Linked DNA regions of Homo sapiens. The protein of the gene in region 1 interacts with the protein of each later gene in a biochemical or structural test. Each region holds a gene or a part of one and is shown on either strand. Other genes may lie near its edges.

Region 1 (7,021 bases):
CTGCTGTGGTGGCCTCAGCAGGGAGGGTGGGAGGGATGGAGGGAACGCCCCACTGTCGCTTCTCCCCATGCAGACTCCAGGCCCCTGCCTTTCGTCACTCCACCATTCTCCTGGTGCCAGTTGGGTGGTGAGGTGGGGCTGGGGAAGGGCTCCCACCGCCATTCCTCACTTCCTTCTAGAGCAGGGGTTCTTCTGCAGTGTGGCCTGGACCTCCACCCACAGCAGCAGCAGCACCTGGGAGCTCCTTAGAAATGCGAATTTTCCTGGGGGTGAGGCCCAGTAAAAGGCTCGCAAGCACCCCAGGTGATCCAGTTGTATGCTCGAGTGTGAGAGCCACTGGCCTAGAGCTTGGGTTCCCGCTGTTCTACTCAAGGTCAGCAGCAGCCCTGGGCGAGATAGGAAGAGAGTGGCAGGTGGATAAAAGGAAAAAGCTGGCTTCCATCCCCTGCCTTCTTCCTCATCCACCATATAATTCATTATTGCCCCAACCCATAGCCTCATTTATATGGATGTGAATGTCTGTGAGAGAGCGCGAGCACACACAGGAACGCATGCTTACCCGGACACTGGCACCCATGTACACACGCTCGCCCACCCAGCTCTCCTTAAGAGCTTTTCAGCTCCTAGATCTTATACAACTTGCGGATTCTTCATCTCATAGAAGCAAAGATTAGGAATAGTAGTTAGAGTCTAGATTATGGTAACTTCAGCTGTGATCGATTATGCTGTTATGGGCCCACCTGGGAGTCTTCCTTCCCCACACCCATGCCTGCCCATTTATAACATCATTTCTGGGATATTAGCACCTGCATTGCAAGTTCCTGGCAACCTAACACAGTGACCCATCTCACTGGGGGCTCATCAGACGTGAATGAGCTGCATTGGATGGAAACAGCTGACTTCCAATACACTTTTGGATCATTGCACAGCATGAACTATCTGCTGTGTATTACTGGCTTCCAATCAAGAGTCAGAGAATTTGTGAGGCCAACTAGCAAAGGTTTGTGTGCTGTTTACATCACAACTTTCCTTGTAGAATCCTGGAGCATGAGATAGCCTCTTGGAACGTGCAGGCTGTGAGAAGAACAGGGAGCAAATCACATTTGCAGTGATTTGGGCTGCAACCTGAGACAAGTTGGGTATTTAAAGAAATACATGAACACCAACTTGCTTTCTGACTACTCTTAGCTATAGCTGAGCCAGGCATATTGTTCTAGGTAGCATCTACACATTCTATCCCTGCAGAAAACCAACTATTGATGCCATTCTTCCCTCCAAATGTCCTAAGTTTATTTGTAAGAATAAGAAAGATTTGCAGAGCTGGGCACAGTGGCTCACGCCTGTAATCCCAGCACTTTGGGAGGCTGGGGTGGGCATATCGCTTGAGGCCAGGAGTTCGAGACCAGCCTGAGCAACATAGCAAGATCCCATCTCTTATGGGAGCAGCCAGACATAGTGGTGCATACCTGTAGTCCCACCGATTCCAGAGGCTGAGGCAGGAGGATCTCTTGGGCCCAGGAGTTTGAGACTTCAGTGAGCTATAATCATGCTACTGCACTCCAGCCTGGGCAACAAGGTGAGACCTCATCTTAAAAAATAAATAAATAAATAAATAAAAAGTTTGCAGAGCTAATTTTCAGCATATTATTGTTTCTGTGAACCTAGCAGCCAGAGGCTTTGCTGGTTCTAAAATAGTTTCAGAAATCAATAGCCTTATCTATCTCTGACCAGATTTAAGTCTGTTCCCTTCACATGACAAAGGGTGATGCCTTTCCACGTTTCTCATAGCATGGCACACCTTTACCAATAATGATTTACAGCACCTGTGTTGTAAGGATGAGGCTGCTGTGGTCTTTTTCAACCAGTTCCCTTCCTGCCTTGAGCTAAGGGAATTGATATCTCACAACCTGCCTATAGCCCTGTGTAGGTCACCAGGCAGGAAGCTCTGCACATGGCTTTGGAAGATTCCCAGTGCCCCTAAGATTCTGGGACAACAGTGTCTAATAGAACTTTCTGCAGTGCTGGAAGTGTTCTGTATCTCCTATTGGATATGGTATCCACTGGCCACATGTGGCTATTGAGCGCTTGAAATGTGACTAGTCAACAAGGAACTCAATTTAGTGTATTTTATTTTACTTAATTTAAATCTAAAAACAGTAGCTCCCCTTAATCTGTAGTTTTGATTTCTGCAGTTTCAGTTACCCACAGTCAACCACAATCCAAAAATAGGTGAGAACCATACAAGATATTTTGAGAGAAAGGAAGAGCACATTCACATAACTTTCATTATATTATATTGTTTTATTGTCAGTGGTTATTGTTAAATTACTGTACTTATAAATTAAACATCATCATAGGTATAACATATATGGATAGGAAAAGACATAGTCTATATAGGGTTCAGTACTACTCATGGTTTTAGGCATCCACTGGGGGTCTTGAAATGTACCCTCTGTAGATAAGGGGGGACTATTATAGGAGATTCTGTTTTCTGTTTCTGCTGTTTTAATTTTTTGAAAAAGCCATGGATCTTCTCCTCTGCTCTGCAGTCCAGATTCTTAGCAATGTGATGCATTTGTTTTTGTTTTTGTTTTTGTTTTCAGCCTTCAGACAAGGAGATGTTCAGCCGTTCAGTTACTAGCCTGGCAACAGATGCTCCTGCCAGCAGTGAGCAGAATGGGGCACTCACCAATGGGGACAGTAAGTTCTGCAAAAACACCAGCTTTCCACACAGGCCTCATCACCTCTGGAAGTCCTAGGTTTCAAAATACATAGCTCAAAAAGTAGGAAATGTGTTATTGCTCAGTTTTAGTATTCCTAGCAGTTTTAGCAGAACCCCTCATTTGGATGAATACTGCTACTTATTAATCCACTTCTGTGTGCCAGGCATTGTTCTAAGACTGGTACATGTACTAATTCATTTGCTCTTTTAGTACATTTTAGTACATTTACATGTACTAATTCATTTACCCCACGAGATTACTGTTATTAATAATAACACTACTCTGTAAGATAGGTATTATTACTCCTCACAATTTAAAGGTGACAAAACTGGGCACATTGCTGCTGTAACAATATTACCACAAACCTCATGCCTTAAAATAACAATTTATTGACTTGCAATTCTGAGGTCAGGAGTCTGAAATGGGTCTCACTGGGCTAAAATCAGGGCATCCGTAGGCCTGTGGTCCTTCCTGAAGCCTCAAGGAGAATCCATTGGCCTCTCCCTCATTCTTCACATCCCTCTCTGACCCTCCCCCCTCCCTATTCACTTATAGGGACCCTTGTGATTACACTGGGCCCACCTGGATAATCCAGGCTTCCCTCTCATCCGGGAGTCATCTAATTAACAGCCTTAATTCCACCTGTAGCCCTAATCCCTCCATACCCTCCACAAAACATTACACATTCACAAGTTCCAGGAATTAGGAGACAGACATTTTTCAGGGTCGTTCTGCCTTCCACAGAGATGTTGCTAATTTGCCTGATATCATATAGTCAGCGGGCTAAGGATCTGTAGTTGGAACCAGGCAGTCTGATCCCTGGGCACGCACTCAGTCACTCTGCATAACCTCTGCATCATGCATTGTGTACTCTTGCTGATGGAAGGAGCAGCTAGGTTTCCTTCATGCTTTAGAGTTTACACCATGCTTTTACCTGAGGTAAGAGGGCGTCCTGTTACCCCTGTTTACTGATGAGGAAACTGTGGGGTAATCAGGACACCAGTGCCTGTTCTCTGTCTACCATGATGTAGACAACTAGAACCAGAGAGCAAAAGTTCACCCCCTCCGTGATGATCAGGGATTTAGAACACACAGGGGTGTTGGTAAGTTCAGAAGGATTGGGGGATCCGTTGTCATTTTTTCACATACCCCTTGGAAACACTATTTCTAATTCCCCCAGAGTGAGACACTAATGGAATAACTTGCTTACTTTGTGTCTGCATCCTAAGGGCAGGGCTTTCTGTTTCATTGAATGATGTGTCTGCAGCACCCTGCACCATCCCTGGTGCATGGCAGGCACTCACAACACGGTTGACAAAGGGACGACTGAACAGCTTCACACAATAGCATATCTGTGGCTGGCCAAGAATTTCACATTTGGTTTTTTTCTAATTTGAGGTAGGAATGTTGGTGGCGGGATGAGATGGAAGCAAGGTATGAGGTGCCAGTCCCTTTGTGCTAATGGCTGACGGGTGCATGTTTGCCCTGTAGTTTCTATTATGTCTGCCAAACAAAAGTCACCTGTGTGAAAGGGGGTGGCTACCAATAATTCCCTCCACACAGGCAGGGGTCAGTGGTGCTGGGGACTGTGGTCACTGCACATGCTGCCTTTCTGGTGTCCAGCCTCCCATAGTTCAGCGGCATCAAACTGGTCATCTTCTGGTCACATTGGACAATCTGCCTACAAGAGTCTCTCATTGGAGTGACATTAAGGAAAGTAATTGTGAACTACACTTAGAGCCAAGATAACTTATTAAATCTTGTATTGGGAAAGATATAATGAACAGCTTTATTTTAAACTGTGATTGAAGTAGGATACCAACTGATGGTCATAACAACTATAATTTGTGCCTGAGACTTAAATAAAAAGCACGCATCTTGATTTAACCTAACTTTATATTACCTGATTCTCGGTAATAATTATTGAAAGACTTGCCTTTCTCCGCTTTTAATGTGTGTGCTGCTTTAGTTCTTTCAGAGGACAGTACTCTGACCTGCATGCAGCATTACGAGGAAGTCCAGACATCGGCCTCGGATCTGCTGGATTCCCAGGACAGCACAGGGAAACCAAAATGTCATCAGAGTCGGGAGCTGCCCAGAATCCCTCCCGAGAGCGCAGTGGATACCATGCTCACGGCGAGAAGTGTGGACGGGGACCAGGGGCTGGGGATGGAAGGGCCCTATGAAGTGCTCAAGGACAGCTCCTCCCAAGAAAACATGGTGGAGGACTGCTTGTATGAAACTGTGAAAGAGATCAAGGAGGTGGCTGCAGCTGCACACCTGGAGAAAGGCCACAGTGGCAAGGCAAAATCTACTTCTGCCTCGAAAGAGCTCCCAGGGCCCCAGACTGAAGGCAAAGCTGAGTTTGCTGAATATGCCTCGGTGGACAGAAACAAAAAATGTCGTCAAAGTGTTAATGTAGAGAGTATCCTTGGAAATTCATGTGATCCAGAAGAGGAGGCCCCACCACCTGTCCCTGTTAAGCTTCTGGACGAGAATGAAAACCTTCAGGAGAAGGAAGGGGGAGAGGCGGAAGAGAGTGCCACAGACACGACCAGTGAAACTAACAAGGTGGGCACTGGCGTTTTTGTTTTGTCTTTGTGGGTTCCTGTTCTGGTTAGGAATCTAGCTGGCCCTGGAGTTGTTCTGGGAAATATCTGCAAACACTTTCCAGTTTGTTGAATGATGAGAGCTGTTTTCATGTAAGCTGTGTTTGGCTTTTTCCCCCTCCAAGTAATAAAATACCAAAAACTTGTATTTATCAAATATTTCTCTCAGCACCTTACTTGGATATTTTCACATTTTTTCCATCATGTCTAATTAGGGCCAAATCTTGTTTGCTTCATTTTGATGTCCACAAATTAAATACAGAAACTGGACACTTTGCCCACACATTTTACCCATTCTGCTTGTTGGCTGCCTCAGCAGCATGGTGACCTTTCCCCTTCCAGGATCCCCAAAAATCAGCATGCATAGCAACAGGTACCATGGGAACCAACTCACAGGTGCCCCTGGTTATATCTGATTGTACAAACCTTCATATAAATCAGTAGGAGATCTTATTTTGTGACCCTTTCTAAACTATAGCCTATACTTCCTAAATTTAGATATTCAACAAAGCTGTAAAATGCATTAGCAATCCACACCTTCTGCATGTGTCTGATAACTTGATATCTGAGCCACGATGAAGTTCACATCCCTGGTTGTTAAAATCTCTTTGGGATTTAACTAGGCCCATCTACTTCAGGCAACTAATAATTAATTTCTGTTTTCTACACAGAAAAAGAGGAAGGTTCTCTCTTCTATTCAGTTTTAGTAGGAAGGACAAGTAGCAGGTTAGCCAGTCACTAGTAGCCTTAAAAACCTTCCGTAGTTCATGGCCAGAGGTGAACCCTCACTCTGTTTGTATAAATTAGACCAAGAAAATCATTCTTTGTGCTGTTCTCTGAATGCATTTCAACTTTTCATATTATCCATGAAATCAGCTGTTGAGAGCACCAATAAAAGGGTTTATGAACATGTTCATAAAATATAAAAATGCAGTCCAATTTTTTGCCCTTCATAGAACCAAAGACCATAAACCTGATGTAAAGTTCATGCTGCCTAAACCAGACAAAGCTTTTTACTTACAAGCATTAGAAAGATAAGACGTTGAGTTGTCTAACCATTGCTAGTAAACAGTTCTCCAGATTTCACGTTAAAAACTGGAAATAATCATCTGGAAATAAAATTATCCTTCCACAATATAGTAAAAATGAGTAATCCATCATCTTTATATAAACAACCCTAATTTTAAGTGAGTTGAGGGTTTGAAGTATTTAATATTCATTCATTTATTTAACAAAAGATCTTAATAAGCACCTGCTGTGTGCCACACAGTCTTCTAGTCCTGGAAACAAAACATGTACATGAACAAAATCCCTGCCCTGTGGAACTTACATCTTAGTGGGAAGAGACAGACATAAAGTTTAAAGTTTATAAGAGAAAAAAATAGAACCGAATAAGGGGAACTGAGAAAACAGGTGGGGAGTACAGTTTTGGATAGAGTGGTCAGGGTCTGCCCAGCTATGAAGGTGACGTTTGAGTTAAAGGATCCAAGGGGGTGAGGTTTGTGCTTTTGTGGAAAGAGCACGTGAAGCAGAGGGGATGCCCAGTGTGAGGCCCCTGAAGCTAGAGCTTGCAACTGGCTTTTTAAGGGAAGAGGAGGGGACTGCTGTGGGTGGAGAGGGAAGAGCAAGGACAGCAGTGAGGAGAAAGAGAACCAGAGCTCGATCCTGGATGGCCTTGGCTTATAGTCT
Region 2 (7,263 bases), on another chromosome or scaffold:
ACTGCAGGCTCCGTCTCCTGGGTTCACGCCATTCTCCTGCCTCAGCCTCCCGAGTAGCTGGGACTACAGGCGCCCGCCACCACGCCCGGCTAATTTTTTGTATTTTTAGTAGAGACGGAGTTTCACCGTTAGCCAGGATGGTCTCGATCTCCTGACCTTGTGATCTGCCTGCCTCAGCCTCCCAAAGTGCTGGGATTACAGGCGTGAGCCACCTTCAAGTCTTGATTCACAGGTTATCCCCTCCGAGGCATGCCCTGACTGGCTCAAAATTACATGCTCAAGACCTCGCCTACCCTTTCTGATTTATTTTACTCCTTAGCACCTGTAACCATGTGACATACTCTATGAAATATTTATCTATTTTGTTCATTCTCTGTCTCTCCCACTAGAATGTCAGCTCCATGAGGGAAGAGATTTTCATGTGCTGTTCACTGCGGATCCATAGAACAGAGTACCCGGAAAAGAGTCTGGCATAGAACGGGTGTTCAGTATTGAATAAATAAGTAGCCAGGGGTCTCAGGAGGTGGCAGTGCCATGGCAGTTTGAAGGCTTCCGAAGGAGCCATCCACTTGAGAAGCCCCCAGGGGAGAGCACAGCATGTGGCTGCTGTGGTCAAGCAATTCTTTTCTGACTTAAACCAGCTGGATTAATTTTTTTTATTTCAGGGCAGGGCGGTGGTCACTTTCAGCCTTCAGGGACGCCTGAGTTGTGCTTGGCAGCCTGCAATACTGGAGAGCTGCCCCTGGAGGGCGCAAGGGAATCCCGTTGCTGCACTCGGACGCGCAGTCACTAGACATGAGAGATGACGGTGGTGGTAGCAGTAATGGAGCATTTGCCTTTAGGCCTCTTTTAACTTTCACAACAGCCTACAAGACAGGTACCATTATCCCCGTTTCCTAAGGGAGGAAACCAAGGCGCAGAGAGGCTAAGTAACGTGCTCACGGTCCCTCAGGGTTAAGTGGCAGAACCAGAAAAGAACCAGAAGGAAAGGAGATACAAGTCACCATTTTTGGCCTGGCGCGGTGGCTCACGCCTGTAATCCCAGCACTTTGGGAGGCCGAGACGGGTGGATCACGAGGTCAGGAGATCGAGACCATCCTGGCTAACGGTGAAACTCCGTCTCTACTAAAAATACAAAAAATTAGCCGGGCGCGGTGGCGGGCGCCTGTGGTCCCAGCTGCTTGGGAGGCTGAGGGAGGAGAACGGCGTGAACCCGGGAGGCGGAGCTTGCAGTGAGCCGAGATAGCGCCACTGCAGTCCGGCCTGTGTGAAAGAGCGAGACTCCGTCTCAAAAAAAAAAAAAAAAAAAGTCACCATTTTTCTGTACACCCAGAGGGAATCCAGGAGGGGCCCTGGATGGACCTGTTTCCTTTGGGGCTCATTGCACTGGGGTGTATCTCCTCTCGGGCCTGCTGGAGCCTCCACCCTATCTCCCTGCTGCACGTCTCCCAGCAGTGGCTTGTGTTCTCTTAACTGTGCAGCCAGATTGGACCTGCTCAGCTCCAGGTGAAATGGACAGAAAGCCCATCCCTGCCCGGTCTGAGGATTGGGAAGCCTTCCTGGAGGAAAACACGCTTAATTGGAGACCTGAAAGAGGACTAGGAAATAGGCAGGTGAAGAGGTGTGGGCAAAGACCTGAGGATATGGGGGTGACTGATGAATTTCTTCGAGGCTCTTGGCATGAGTAGAGTGAATGTTTACCCCAACCCGATGAGGCAAAGGCACCGCAACTTTCCTAGCCCACATTTCCATCCGTTTGCCCTTTACTGTAAACATTCAAAAGATGCATCCACCTCCTTCCACTCTGGCAGAACAGAGGACCTTATCTGCATGCCAATCTCGGATTATCTGTAGCCCAATCTCAGAGCTGTCTGAGCACTGGGCTTTGTAGTTTCCAGACCAGCCTCTGGGACAGGAAGTGGGGGGCTCAAGGGTTGTAGGGCCAGTGCCTTGCAGAGGCTGGGAATCCCCTTCTCAGGACCTGAAGACCCTGGAAACTGGAAGCCCCCCACCCACACAGAGGCACCCTGTCCCATAGCTGGCTCAGCTTCCAGCTCCCTGGGGCGCTGGCCTCCTTCGGGGAGATATTTTACAACCAAAGTTTTCTTCTTTTATGTCCAGCAGCACGTGGGTGGGGTCAGGCTGCCTGGGCTGCAATCCCACCTGGCCACTTGGCATCTCTTAACCTCTCTGGGCTTTACTTACCTTATCTGGAAAATAGGTTGAATGGCTTATTAATTGTGATGTGCGTACAGCAATGTCTGGCACATAATCAGTGCGACTCTCATTATTGTAGTATGAATGTGATTTGATGCTGTAATTTCTCCTCTCTTCAGGGTGCCGGTGTCTTTTTCTCTCAATACTCCAAGAAATGAGCGTCCAGCATGGATGTGAAGGGATGCTTGCTGCACCTGGAGTTTCAAGATGCCGCTGGGGAAAAGGGAGGCTGCTAGCAAACACCATTTTGGAGGGGGCTGTATGAAGGAGAAAAGTAGCCTAGAGCCGGAACTCAGATTTTCTAAAGGGGATTCAGGCGGCCAGAGGATAGTAGAGGGCCAGAAAGGAGGTCCCCAAGGAGGCTTCGGGGTAGGGTGTGAGGGGATCCTCAGGCAGACTGGGGAGCTGAGCCTGTTGTAACCGAGCGAGTTACAGAGAAACGCCGCACTTTGAGACGAATTCAGGGGTCCTTTATTAGCTGGCGACTGAGAGACAGCTAGTGCTCAAAATTCTCTCAGCCCCAAAGAAGGGGCTTGATTTTCTTTTATACTTTGGTTTAGAAAGGACAGGTGGGGGTCTAAAACAATCTTACAGAAGTAAAGCAGGCAAAAAGTTAAAAGGATAAATGGTTACGGGAAAGCAAACAGTTCCAGGTGCAGGGGCTTAAAATCTATCACAAGGTGATAGACACGGGGCTTTGGGCGTTATCAACCGGACACAAACGCCGGGGCTCTGGGTGCTATTAACCGGGCGAATTCCTGGGAACTGCGGATATAGCTTGCCACAGTATCTTATCAGTTAATTGCATTCTTGGATGTGCTGGGAGTCAGCTTGCACAAATTAAGTCCTTGAGGAAGCGGGGTGGGTAAGGGGCTGCAAATGAAAGAGCCAAGATGGAGTCTGTCTGGCTCTCTTAGCTAAGGGAGAGTCAATTCAGGTTAAAACAAGGTAGGGTATCACAAGCCCACTTAACAAGGGCAGCAGGACCCCAAGAAGAAAAGCTTTAGGAGTCTCCACAGTGGGCCCAGGGCAGTTCCACACAGGTCTCTGAGGCCCCACAGACAGGAGAGCTGTGACGACTCCCTTAGTGCCCAAGAAAGCAAGGAGGTGGTGGGCAAGGGGCTCCCAGAGGCCTTGGGGCACTAGAGGGGAGATGGAGCCGAGGGAGTGGCTCTGCAGGCCCCTCTCTGAGAGAGTGCATGAGGTGTGGCCCCAGGCCCAAGGGTAGGGGGTGCACAGGGTGAGGGAAGGGAGGAGAGGAAGAGGAGGAGGAGGTGGTGGCCACAGCGGGATGGCACTCAGCCAGGTTCAGCTTCGTGGGAAAGGTCCCAGGTGGGCCGGGCTAGCACTGGGGATGCCCTGGCTCTGTGTCTCGGTTGGGTGGCTGACTCCTCCTGGAACGCATCCCTGACATCCTCCAGGCTGGCTTGGGGATACTCTGGGGACACACAGTGCCCAGGCTTCCGGCCTCCCAGCCCTGGCTCCCTGTGGACTCAGCTGCCCCCAACAAGCCTGCGAGCCACTGGAGAGCAAGGGCAGGCTGTCCTTGCCATCCAGATGCCTGGCACAGAAGGGGTTCTCACCTTCGGGGTATGGGCTGACTCAGTGGGTTTCTCCTCCCTCCAGCTCTAACCTGCCTGTGGAATAAACAAATCACTCCTCTGGGTTGTCTAGCTGGTGCAGGCCCCAGGGCGACGCCCCTTTGAGGGGAAAATGGGGGCATTCCAGTTTCCATGAGCCCTGGGACTCCCCTCCTTCCCACCACTGCTGCCTACCCTCCGGTTCCAGGTATGCAGGCTTCCTCCCTTCTGACGGTTCCTGCTGCTGGAGTCGTCCTTCCTGAAACCCTGCCTTTGCTTAGCCTCATTCCCATCTCTCAGTCCCATCCTGCAGCTGGGCAGGCAGTGCTGGGCCCCGGAAATGCCCTCTGCCTCCCTGGAGCACGTGGCCTGTGATTTTCCTTGAGCACAGCACTTTGTGACTTTGATGTAAACATCAAACACAGCCCCCTTTCCTGTCTTCGCATCCAGGAAATAGGTTAGTTTCAGACAAGCCTGCTTGCCGGAGCTCAGCAGACACCAGGCCTTCCGGGCAGGCCTGGCCCACCGTGGGCCTCAGAGCTGCTGCTGGGGCATTCAGGTAAGCGGCTGTCCTCGGGCCTTCTGCCTGTGTCCTGCCACCAGGGCCACCCCAGGGGGCTCTGGGAGACCTGGCAGAGGATGAACCCCCCCCATCCATGAGTGAGAAACCCTGGCGGGGTGTGACATCCTCCCCCGGGGTGTGTGCGGAGAGTGTGAGCGGCAGGGCCTCCCTCTCAGGCTGGGGGCTTGGGCTGCAGGGAAATCCAAACCGGCTTTGTAAGCCCCGATTCCTCACCCAGAACCGGCTCTCCATTGGCATTGGGACCAGAGACCCCGCAAGTGGCCTGTTTGCCTGGACATCCACCTGTACGTCCCCAGGTAAGTGGTGCCTGGGTGGAGTGGCACCTGGCCACCGTCTCCATGGTGGGCTGTGTCTGGAGGAGGAAGACAGAATATTAACTGGGAGTCAGGAGGTTGCTGGGAGGACCAGGAGAGCTGGAGGACTGGGCTGGGTGGTGACTGGCTGGAGATGGAGGCAGACGGGGCTTGTGGCCACGCTGAGGGAAGCAGCTCCCCCTCCAGAGGCTTGGCCGAGCGGGGCTGTTCAGGGGACACGGTGAGGCCTGCTCAGTCCCTGGGCTCCTGCTGGGCCCTGTTTGGCTGCATCCTTGGCTCTCGGAGGCAGAGAAACCTCCAGAGAAAGCGCATGTGCACTCTGTGAAGATGAGGGGGCTGCTCACCAGGGCCGTGAGCTCCATCAGCAGAATGCTGTGATTCCTGTGAGGAGTCCAGGGCAGGCTTGAGCCACTTGTAGGCGAGCTCAGGTTAGAGGAAGACCTGGAGAGAGAAAGAGCAAAACACCGAGTTCTCCTCAACTGCTGTGTGTTCTCGGCAAGTTGCTTGGCCTCTCTGACCTCAGTTTGTGCATCTGTTAAATGCACATGCAGATATGGGCACCTGGCAGGCGCCTGGTTCCTGACTGTTGGCGAGAGGCTGGGAAATGTGTCCCAGGTAGGAAGCATCCCCGACAGGAAGGAACAGGAGTTCATGAGGTGAGCAGCTCGAGATGATTCATTACTCTCGTCTTGGTTGGAACAGTAGGCAGACAGGAGGTGTTTAATAATGCCTTGCTGAGAGATCAGGGTCAGGGACTCCTAAGGTGCCACCTGTGAAGCTGCCTCCTGCTGAATCCAGAGCTTCCTTTTCCTCTTCACACCTGCCCTCCATCCTCAGCCCCACTGCCCTGGCAGTGTTGCGGGGGTGGTGTTGATGTGCACACTCTGGAGCCTGGGGGCCTGGCTTCACATTCTGGCTCTGCCACTCACCAGCTGTGTGACTGGACCAGTCACCGCATCTCTCTGTGCTTCCCTCCCAGGGCTCTCGGGAGGATAAAGAGAGTGACTGTATCCACACTGCCCGGCACATACAGGTGCTGCAGAAAGGTCTCACTAAAACCCTCATTATCCTCACTAGCTCTGGGTGGCCTCGGGCTCTGGACTCCACAGTTCCTGTATGCTCTCCGGGGCTGCAGCACCCAGACCACCCCGTGCTGACCACTCCCTGCCCCACCCCAAGGTACAGGGTTAAGGCAGCCATTCTCATCAGAGCCAATTTTACCTCCTCCCGTCTCCCTGGGACAGTTGATAGTGCCTGGAGACAGTTTGGGTTGTGACCCAGCGGGTGTTACTGGCATCCAGCATGTCCAGGACAGGAATCCTGTGAACAGCCTACAAGGCCCAGGACAGTCCCACCCTGTTCCATTGTCTCTATCAGCCCCTATCCTCCTGACTCACACCGCCTTTTCCCATCTCCCTTTTACAGTCACAGAGCCTGAGGCCCAGAGAGGGACCGCTGCTTGCTGAGGTCACACAGGCAGTGGAGGCCGGAGTTGGGGGCCTCACTGGAGGGGCGGTGGAAGGGCATTGTTCAATCAACAGACACTTGGAGAGTGTGCTGGGTTGGGGAATCTGACCCTGACCCCGCACCAGCCCAGCTCTCCAGGGTCTCCTAATAGACATTTGCTGGAGTGGTTAGTGCTGGCTGCTGCATTGGACAGACCTGAGTTCAAATCCTGGTGGCCCCTTGCAGGCTGCATGTTCTGAGAGTGACATTGACCTCTCCGAGCCTCAGTTTCTTTAGCTGAGGAGTGGGATAACAGTTCCCACCAAATGTAGTTGTGGTGAGAATTAGAATAAATGGCTAATGCTCGCAAAGGGTAGTGCAGTCCCCAGCACAGAGGCTGTTGTGATTGTCCTTACACACTTGACAAATATTTGTGGGGAGGAAGCAGGAGCTTCCATAGAAAACAAGACAGAGCCGTGGGCCCTGCCTCGGGGAGCTCAGCCTGGTGAGGGACTGAGGAGCAGAGACAGAGGCCATCAGGGCTGTGATGTGGGAGGATGGGGACCCTGGAAGCCTAGGGGAGGTGCCTGACCCAGGCTGGGGAGGGGGCAGGGCTCATGGAATGCTTCTGGGAGGATGGGACAACGGAGGAGGCCTGAAGCCGGAGGCCCAGTAGAAGGATGCAGCGCAGTTCTGGGCTGAGGGAATAGCCTGTGGCCAGGATCCTCAGGATGGGCCCCTCCTCTCCCGCCATCCTCCACCCAAGGAAGCCCCTGTGGCCCCTCACCCCTTCCCAGGTGTCAGGTTCCACCGGTGCTCAGAGGCATCCCCACCCATCCCAGTGGACTGCAGACCTTTGTAGGTACCTGGTATATTGAGCACCTCCTCTGTGCCATGCTGGTATAGGTAGGAGAACAAGACAAAGGCTCCACTCCCGTGGTGCTTACATTCTGGCAGGGACAAAGGTACTATGTCACCAATAGATACAATATCATCTTTTAGGTGGTGAAGAACAACAAAGCTGGGTCAGGGCTAGAGAGAGAAGGAGAGGCTATTTTGGAGAGGGAGGTCAGGGAAGGCCTCCTGGAGGAGGTGACTTAGGCAGAGACCTGAATAAAGTGGA

The links. Proteins that work in one complex are often made in the same cells at the same time.
Region 2: the proteins of PAG1 (region 1) and ZAP70 form a complex in vitro, tested with the Homo sapiens proteins (one study listed by BioGRID).

Annotation. Positions count from the first base shown.
Region 1 is NC_000008.11:80,983,049-80,990,069, reverse strand, and holds part of PAG1 (phosphoprotein associated with glycosphingolipid-enriched microdomains 1), read left to right. Parts: intron 1-803; exon of another isoform or gene 804-1,000; intron 1,001-2,603; coding exon 2,604-2,700; intron 2,701-4,692; coding exon 4,693-5,294; intron 5,295-7,021. UniProt on the Homo sapiens protein: Negatively regulates TCR (T-cell antigen receptor)-mediated signaling in T-cells and FCER1 (high affinity immunoglobulin epsilon receptor)-mediated signaling in mast cells.
Region 2 is NC_000002.12:97,709,319-97,716,581, forward strand, and holds the start of ZAP70 (tyrosine-protein kinase ZAP-70), read left to right. Parts: upstream 1-4,257; 5' UTR 4,258-4,356; intron 4,357-4,563; exon of another isoform or gene 4,564-4,597; 5' UTR 4,598-4,676; intron 4,677-7,263. UniProt on the Homo sapiens protein: Tyrosine kinase that plays an essential role in regulation of the adaptive immune response. Regulates motility, adhesion and cytokine expression of mature T-cells, as well as thymocyte development.